Linked DNA regions of Homo sapiens. The protein of the gene in region 1 purifies or fractionates together with the protein of each later gene. This does not show direct contact. Each region holds a gene or a part of one and is shown on either strand. Other genes may lie near its edges. The genes, in order: OR5L1 and ANKLE2.

The links.
Region 2: the proteins of OR5L1 (region 1) and ANKLE2 purify together in Homo sapiens (affinity purification with mass spectrometry; one large-scale study listed by BioGRID and IntAct). This does not show direct contact.

The regions. Positions count from the first base shown.
Region 1 is NC_000011.10:55,809,845-55,813,111, reverse strand, and holds OR5L1 (olfactory receptor 5L1), read right to left. Parts: upstream 1,746-3,267; 5' UTR 1,646-1,745; coding exon 710-1,645; 3' UTR 636-709; downstream 1-635. UniProt on the Homo sapiens protein: Odorant receptor.
Region 2 is NC_000012.12:132,724,934-132,728,176, reverse strand, and holds the end of ANKLE2 (ankyrin repeat and LEM domain-containing protein 2), read left to right. Parts: intron 1-13; coding exon 14-145; intron 146-733; coding exon 734-935; 3' UTR 936-2,674; downstream 2,675-3,243. UniProt on the Homo sapiens protein: Involved in mitotic nuclear envelope reassembly by promoting dephosphorylation of BAF/BANF1 during mitotic exit.

The DNA.
Region 1 (3,267 bases):
CTACTTATTATGTTTCAGGGATTATTCTAAGCTCCTTGTAAGTGATTCCAGCTTTTTAAATTCAATTTTCCTAGAGTCCTGTGAAATTATTATGTTTTTCATCTATCATATAACATATTATCCAAAGTTCCAATGACACTGGAAACTAAAACAACAGCAAGAAAATAATAAAGAATTTTAAAATGTCAAAAACTGATAAATATATACACATTATACATATATATGGAATATATAAATATTCCATATGTATTCCACACATATATATTCCATATATACATATAATCCATATATATATGAAATTCTACAAACTTCAATGACAATGTAATCATCAATACAAAATAATGAAAACTTTGTTTTGAAAAGAATCGTAGTTTCCATAATGGATCCTGAAATAAATTGTAACCCTTGTAAGTTCTTCATTAGAAGACTTGTAATGGTTTTAGAGAAAGCAAAACTTGTCTATCTTAATAATACTATTGCTCATATCCATTTAAACATTATGTATTTATTTTTTAAAAGTTGGCAGCAAATTTTGAAATATGTTCAATCCTACTCCTTAAAGTTTAAGAAGCACAAAGATAAGTGAATCAAAAAAGACTCGCTTATAACTACTGAGCTCCTTCTTCTCTGTACTCCAACACTGTGCCTCTCCCGTGAACCCCCGCCTGCCACTACTTGGGAATCCTGAATTGTGCTAATAAAATCTTCCCTAGGAGTGAATTTTGGAGCCCATCACTTTTCTGAGAGCTTCTTTCACATCTTTATTTCTCAGGCTGTAGATCACAGAGTTCAGCATAGGAATCACGACTGTGTAGAACACGGTGGCCACTTTGTCAGCATCTCCACTATTGCCTGAACTGGGCCTGCAATAAATGGAAAGGACTGTTCCATGGAAGACAGTGATAGCTGTGAGGTGGGAAGCACAGGTGGAGAAGGCTTTGTGCCTGCCCTCTGCAGAGCCCATCTTCAGGATGGTGGTGAGAATTAGCAGGTAGGAGGTGAGGATGATCATGATGGTAACACTCTCATTCAAAGTGGCCACCAGGAACAGCAGTGTCTCATTCACAGTGATATCAGAGCAAGCAAGACTTAAGACAGGAGGTAGATCACAGAAAAAGTGGTTAATCACATTAGATCTATAGAAGGGGATCCTAAGAGCTAAGCACAAATGAATCAGAGAACACACCGTCCCACAGAAGTAGCAGCAAGAAGCCAGCTCCACACGCACCTTCCAAGACATGGTGACTGTGTATAGCAAAGGGTTACAGATGGCCACAAAGCGGTCATAGGCCATCACGGCCAGCAGGAAGACCTCAGTGACCACACAAGTGCAAAACAAGTAGAATTGCACCATGCACCCTAGGAAGGAGATGGCTTTGTCCTTGTTAAAGATATTAGCCAACATTTTTGGCACAATTATTGAGGAGTAGCAGAAATCTACAGAGGACAAGTGGCTGAGGAAAAAGTACATGGGGGTGTGGAGCCGAGAGCTGACCTGAATCAGTGCAATCATGCCCAGGTTGGCTAACAACGTGACTCCATAGATGAGAAGGAACAGCAGGAAGAGGCAGACTCTCAACTCAGGGACATCTGATAGTCCAAGGAGAATGAACTCAGCCACAGTGGTGCAGTTTTCCTTGCCCATGTCTCCAATTTATATGAGATTGGAGGAAAAGAAACTTAAAAATTATTCTCCATTATATAGTCTAAATTTTAGTTTTGGCTGTATCCTGTAAAAAGACACCAGAAAAAGTAGGATAGTTTATCTTATCAGCAAAGAATAAAACTTTTTGTGAAATTTTAAAAAGTTCAACTTTGTATAACACAAATGCATAAACTTAGTTTAATTCAAAGATCAAACAAAAATATTAACGTATATATGAATTTATATTGTTCTTTTAATTAGTCTTTGAGAATTGACAGCTTTTCACTGAATCATTGGGAATGAGGTCAACTTACTATTTAATTAGCCTCCTTACTCTTTCAAATTCAAATCCCATTTTCTTAGCCAACTCCAAATATTGGGATCCTAGAAAATAATGTTTAGAATCTACGGCACCTCTCTCTGAATTTTTCATTACAGTGATGAGAAATACACTTATTTAAGATGTTAGCAGTCAAGTGTTTGCATTTTATTGATATATTTTAGATGAAGAAACTCATTTTATAATCTGTATTAGTATTTTCTCTGTAAAATTAGTATGGTGATTTGGTTAATTACATTTTTCAATGTCAGCCATGGTTTAGGGAATTGGTACTCTTGGGGACAACTTACTGTAAGTATGACTCCACAGTCTTAAAAAATTATGTCTTAAATAAATTTACTGCTTTCAATCTATTTGAAGACCTGATCAAAGATGTGCATGGGAAATTACTAAGAAAACTTCCCACTGCTGCATTGCAGTATTGTTTGTAATATTAAAACTTAGAAATAAAATATCAAATAAGAGAAAGATGATCACATTTGTAGTGTATATAATATAAAAGCATGCAGTCATATAAAGGATAACTTTAAATCATCTTAATGATATCAATAAATGACTGTGAAAAGGGATAAAATACTTAAAAACAGCCAGAATGTAGAGAAAAAATAGTATATAATAATGTATAATATAAATACATATATTTATGCCACACACAATCGTATATTTAATCCTTACAACATCCATGAACATAAATATTTATTTTAAAAAATCTGTTAACTTGTCTTACTTCTCCCAAAACATCATTATTAGTGAGTGAAATGGGGAAAGACGTTGGAATTTTTAAAATTAGGGACACATACTTTTTAGACCTTTGACACACAGCAAACGTAAAGTGAGGGTGAGAATCTTGTCATTCTTTCTCTTCCTGACCCTTGATACGTTCATACATCATTGTAGAAGCACCAGTCAAGCACTCCTGCAAGAAAAAAATCTGGACTAGAGACCAACACAACCAGACATTTTTCCCATTCTTCAACTGATTTCAAAGATATGCAGCATGCATATTGCTAAATGCCAGGTTGAAAATTTAAAAAAATTGTTTTGATAATATGGTGTTTTCTCTTAAAATGACCAGGAGAGGTGAGTTGTGTATCTTCCCCTGAGTTCAAACTAATACACACTTTTGAAAGCCCTTTCCTGCTTTCAAATCTAAAGAAAAAAAAAATCAAGCTGTTAATTGCACATAGAGCGGTGATTCTTTGTCAAAAGTGACTTTGATCCCAATGGCATATTTGTCAATGTCTGGGGACATTTTTGGTTGTTACAAGAGGAAGGGGGTGCT
Region 2 (3,243 bases), on another chromosome or scaffold:
TTGTGCTTTCTAGAGAGGAGCCATCAAAACTCGATCAGGATGTTTTGGCCGCTCTTGAATGTGCAGACGTCGACCCCCATCAGTTCCCGGCCGTGCACAGATGGAAGAGTGCTGTCCTGTGCTACTCACCCTCGGACAGACAGAGGTATGTGGGGCCCGGACAGCCTGTCACCCGCAGGGCAGCTTTTGGAAACTTCTGCAGGGTCCAGTTCCACTTCATGCGAACCTATCAGTGGCTTTTCCCAACGCTGGCAGGCCCGTCAGCCAGGCTGTGGATTTGGGTGTTGTGGCTCTCTGCACACAGGACAGAGCTCTGGTTGGGTGGAAAAGCTGAACGGGTCAGCTCCTGACAAGCTGAGGGCTAGAAGGGTGGAAGCAGCAGGGTTTCTACTCAGATCACACAGGATTCTCCGGGAAACCCCCATGAGCTTGACTCTCCCAGTGCCCGCGGTGCCAGGGTTCAGCAGTGCCTCTCCTCCACCCAGACGCATGTGCCCACGGTGCCAGGGTTCAGCAGTGTGTCTCCTCCGCCCGGGCGCGTGTGCCCGCGGTGCCAGGGTTCAGCAGTGCGTCTCTTCCACCCGGGCGTGTGTGCCCGCGGTGCCAGGGTTCACCAGTGCCTCTCCTCCGCCCGGGCGCATGTGCCTGAGTCTGGGGCCATTATTCTCCGACTTTTGCTGTTCATCTCCGGGCCTGTGCCCGTCTGCTAACAGTTCTTTCTTGCTTTCCGCAGTTGGCCCAGTCCCGCGGTGAAAGGAAGGTTCAAGTCTCAGCTGCCAGATCTCAGTGGCCCTCACAGCTACAGTCCGGGGAGAAACAGCGTGGCTGGAAGCAACCCCGCAAAGCCAGGCCTGGGCAGTCCTGGGCGCTACAGCCCCGTGCACGGGAGCCAGCTCCGCAGGATGGCGCGCCTGGCTGAGCTTGCCGCCCTGTAGGCTTGGCGCTGGGCTCTCGGTTTGTTCTTCATTTTTAAAGAAGGAAGGGTCATATGTTTATTGCTAAACTGTCAAAAAGGAATATATTCTGATTAAATTATTACTCCTCACTTTGAGGGTGTGAGAATTTTAGAAGATTTAAATGTTCTATATAACACTTAGATTTCTGATATTTTGGAAGAAGTTAGAAGTTAATGAAAGCAAACTCAGTTACCAATTTTCTGGAAAATATCCATGTGGTAATGGTAGACTTTTTAGGTGGCAATTTCTAGGTCTGAAATATAGCAGAGGAAAGGGCGCTGAGGCAGTTGCAGGCAGGCAGCCCTGTACTTACCCTGTACTCACCTCATCCGACAGACGCTGTGGATGAGGAGGGGCTTGGCGGAGGCGTGAGCACCGATGTCCCTTTGATAACCTGCACTCACCAAGATGAACTATTTGCCGCCCTGTCTTTTCCTGGGTTGGGGGGTGGCATCTGATGGTGGCAGAGTGCCTGTTGGTTCGCCCGTGGGTCTCATGGTTCAGACAGAGGGAGGTGGACGGCAGGGATCAGGGAGCCAGGAGCGCGCCTCAGACTTGCAGCAACCATTGTGATTTGGGTTGTTCGGAATATTTAAATTACTGATCAGAAGATGAAAGTAGCTTTTCTCTTGGGAAGTCTTGCAGCCCGTGGGAGTGATACCAGGAGCAACACAGAGCTCAGCAGCGGCGCCAAGGTGTTCCCTGTTTCCTCAGCACGTGAGCCTTCACCGCCTGCTTCATTCAGGAGCCAGTGCAGCAGTAATACAGTCTATACATTGTTCTGTTTTCAAATTTATCCTGAGGCTTTGTTGAGCATAAATGATTATACGATAAAGGTATCCGTTATTTTGGAACTCATTTCAGTTGGGATCTCCTGTATGCAGAGTGTTGCATTTAGAGGTTTGAGTCCCATCTTGGTTTCTTGCCGTGCTGACTGTAGCCTTCACCTTGACTTGAATGAAGGTCTGTGGTTGGAATGTGTGAGGAGCCGCTGAGGTGTTCAGGAGGTGCTGCCTGGAGGTCGGTTTCTTCCTGGGTGTTACGGGCAACTGCTCACACAGTTGTTTCTCTGTGAACATTTCCAGTGTTTAATCCAAAATGAAAACCCACCAATGCTTTTGCTAACTTCAGTGCCTTTTATAAATCATTTTTAAATTTCCTGAACTTGCTTTTTGAGGATATACAGGGATATTAAGTAGACGCAGGATTGTTTTTGTTTGTAAAAATTCTGAATTGAAACTTTGTTTTAAAAAAAGGCTTCTTTCTTTCATATGACAAGAGATAGGTCAGGAATATTGGAATCAAGATTTAAATGTTAAAATTCGATTTTGTTACACAGGGTGTGTTCATTTGTTTTGTAGCAGACAAGATCTAGATCCCAGACAGAAACAACACATGCTATTCTAAAAAGCCGCATTTTAAAAGGCACCTTGGTTCTCAAAAGAAATCAGAATATGGATATTCGTAGTGATGATCTGTTTTCTCTAAAATCTTACCATATTGTCTGTATATGGTTGTAAATTCAAATGGAAAGTAAAACGTTTTGGCCCTGATTTTGTATGTGGACCACTGCTCCTGATTTCCCAGGTCTTAGGCCACCTTTGACTGTTTCTCCGTTTGTTTGTGGGCAGCGATTCCAGTCCCAACGGAGGCATTCTCGTGTGTCCCGGGGGGTTATGTCCTTCACAAAACACTTAATGAAATGAATTACTTCAAAACCGCGTGGTAATAATTGCAAGCTTTCGGAAGGATCCCTCACTTGTGCCCAGGCGCACGGCACTGTTTTGGTTGGACGGCCATCAACCTGGGTGCCCTCAGATTCGCTCGCTGTTTTTAAGCCCCTTTCTTGACTCAGTTGTGAAAGATTTTCTGGCATCCGTTAAAAGAGCACAGATTTTACCGTTGCTCTTGGCAGTGGGAAACCTTGGTGACATTAACAGTTGCTGTGGTGGCTTTGGTTGGAAAGTGCCCTTCTCCAGCGTGGTGGCAGCTGTGAGGGAGGCGCCCGGTGAGTCTGCTGCTCGTTTCTGGGTAAAAGCAGCCATGGTGCTGCGTACCAGCCGTGGGAGTGCCAGCGGCGCCATGGCAGGGACCACAGCCAGGTCCTCCAGAGCCGTGTGGATGTTTCCAGAAGCCTGCAGAGTTTTCCCAGGGAAGGGCTGATGGAAACCCTCATTGGGGCCCGGCTGTGCGTGCGGGGTGCAGGCGTGTTTGTCGTGGTTGGAAACCCTGTGACTGCTCCAGCTGCAGATTCCCGCCCGTGCTCCCTCCTTAGAAAAGGCTTTGG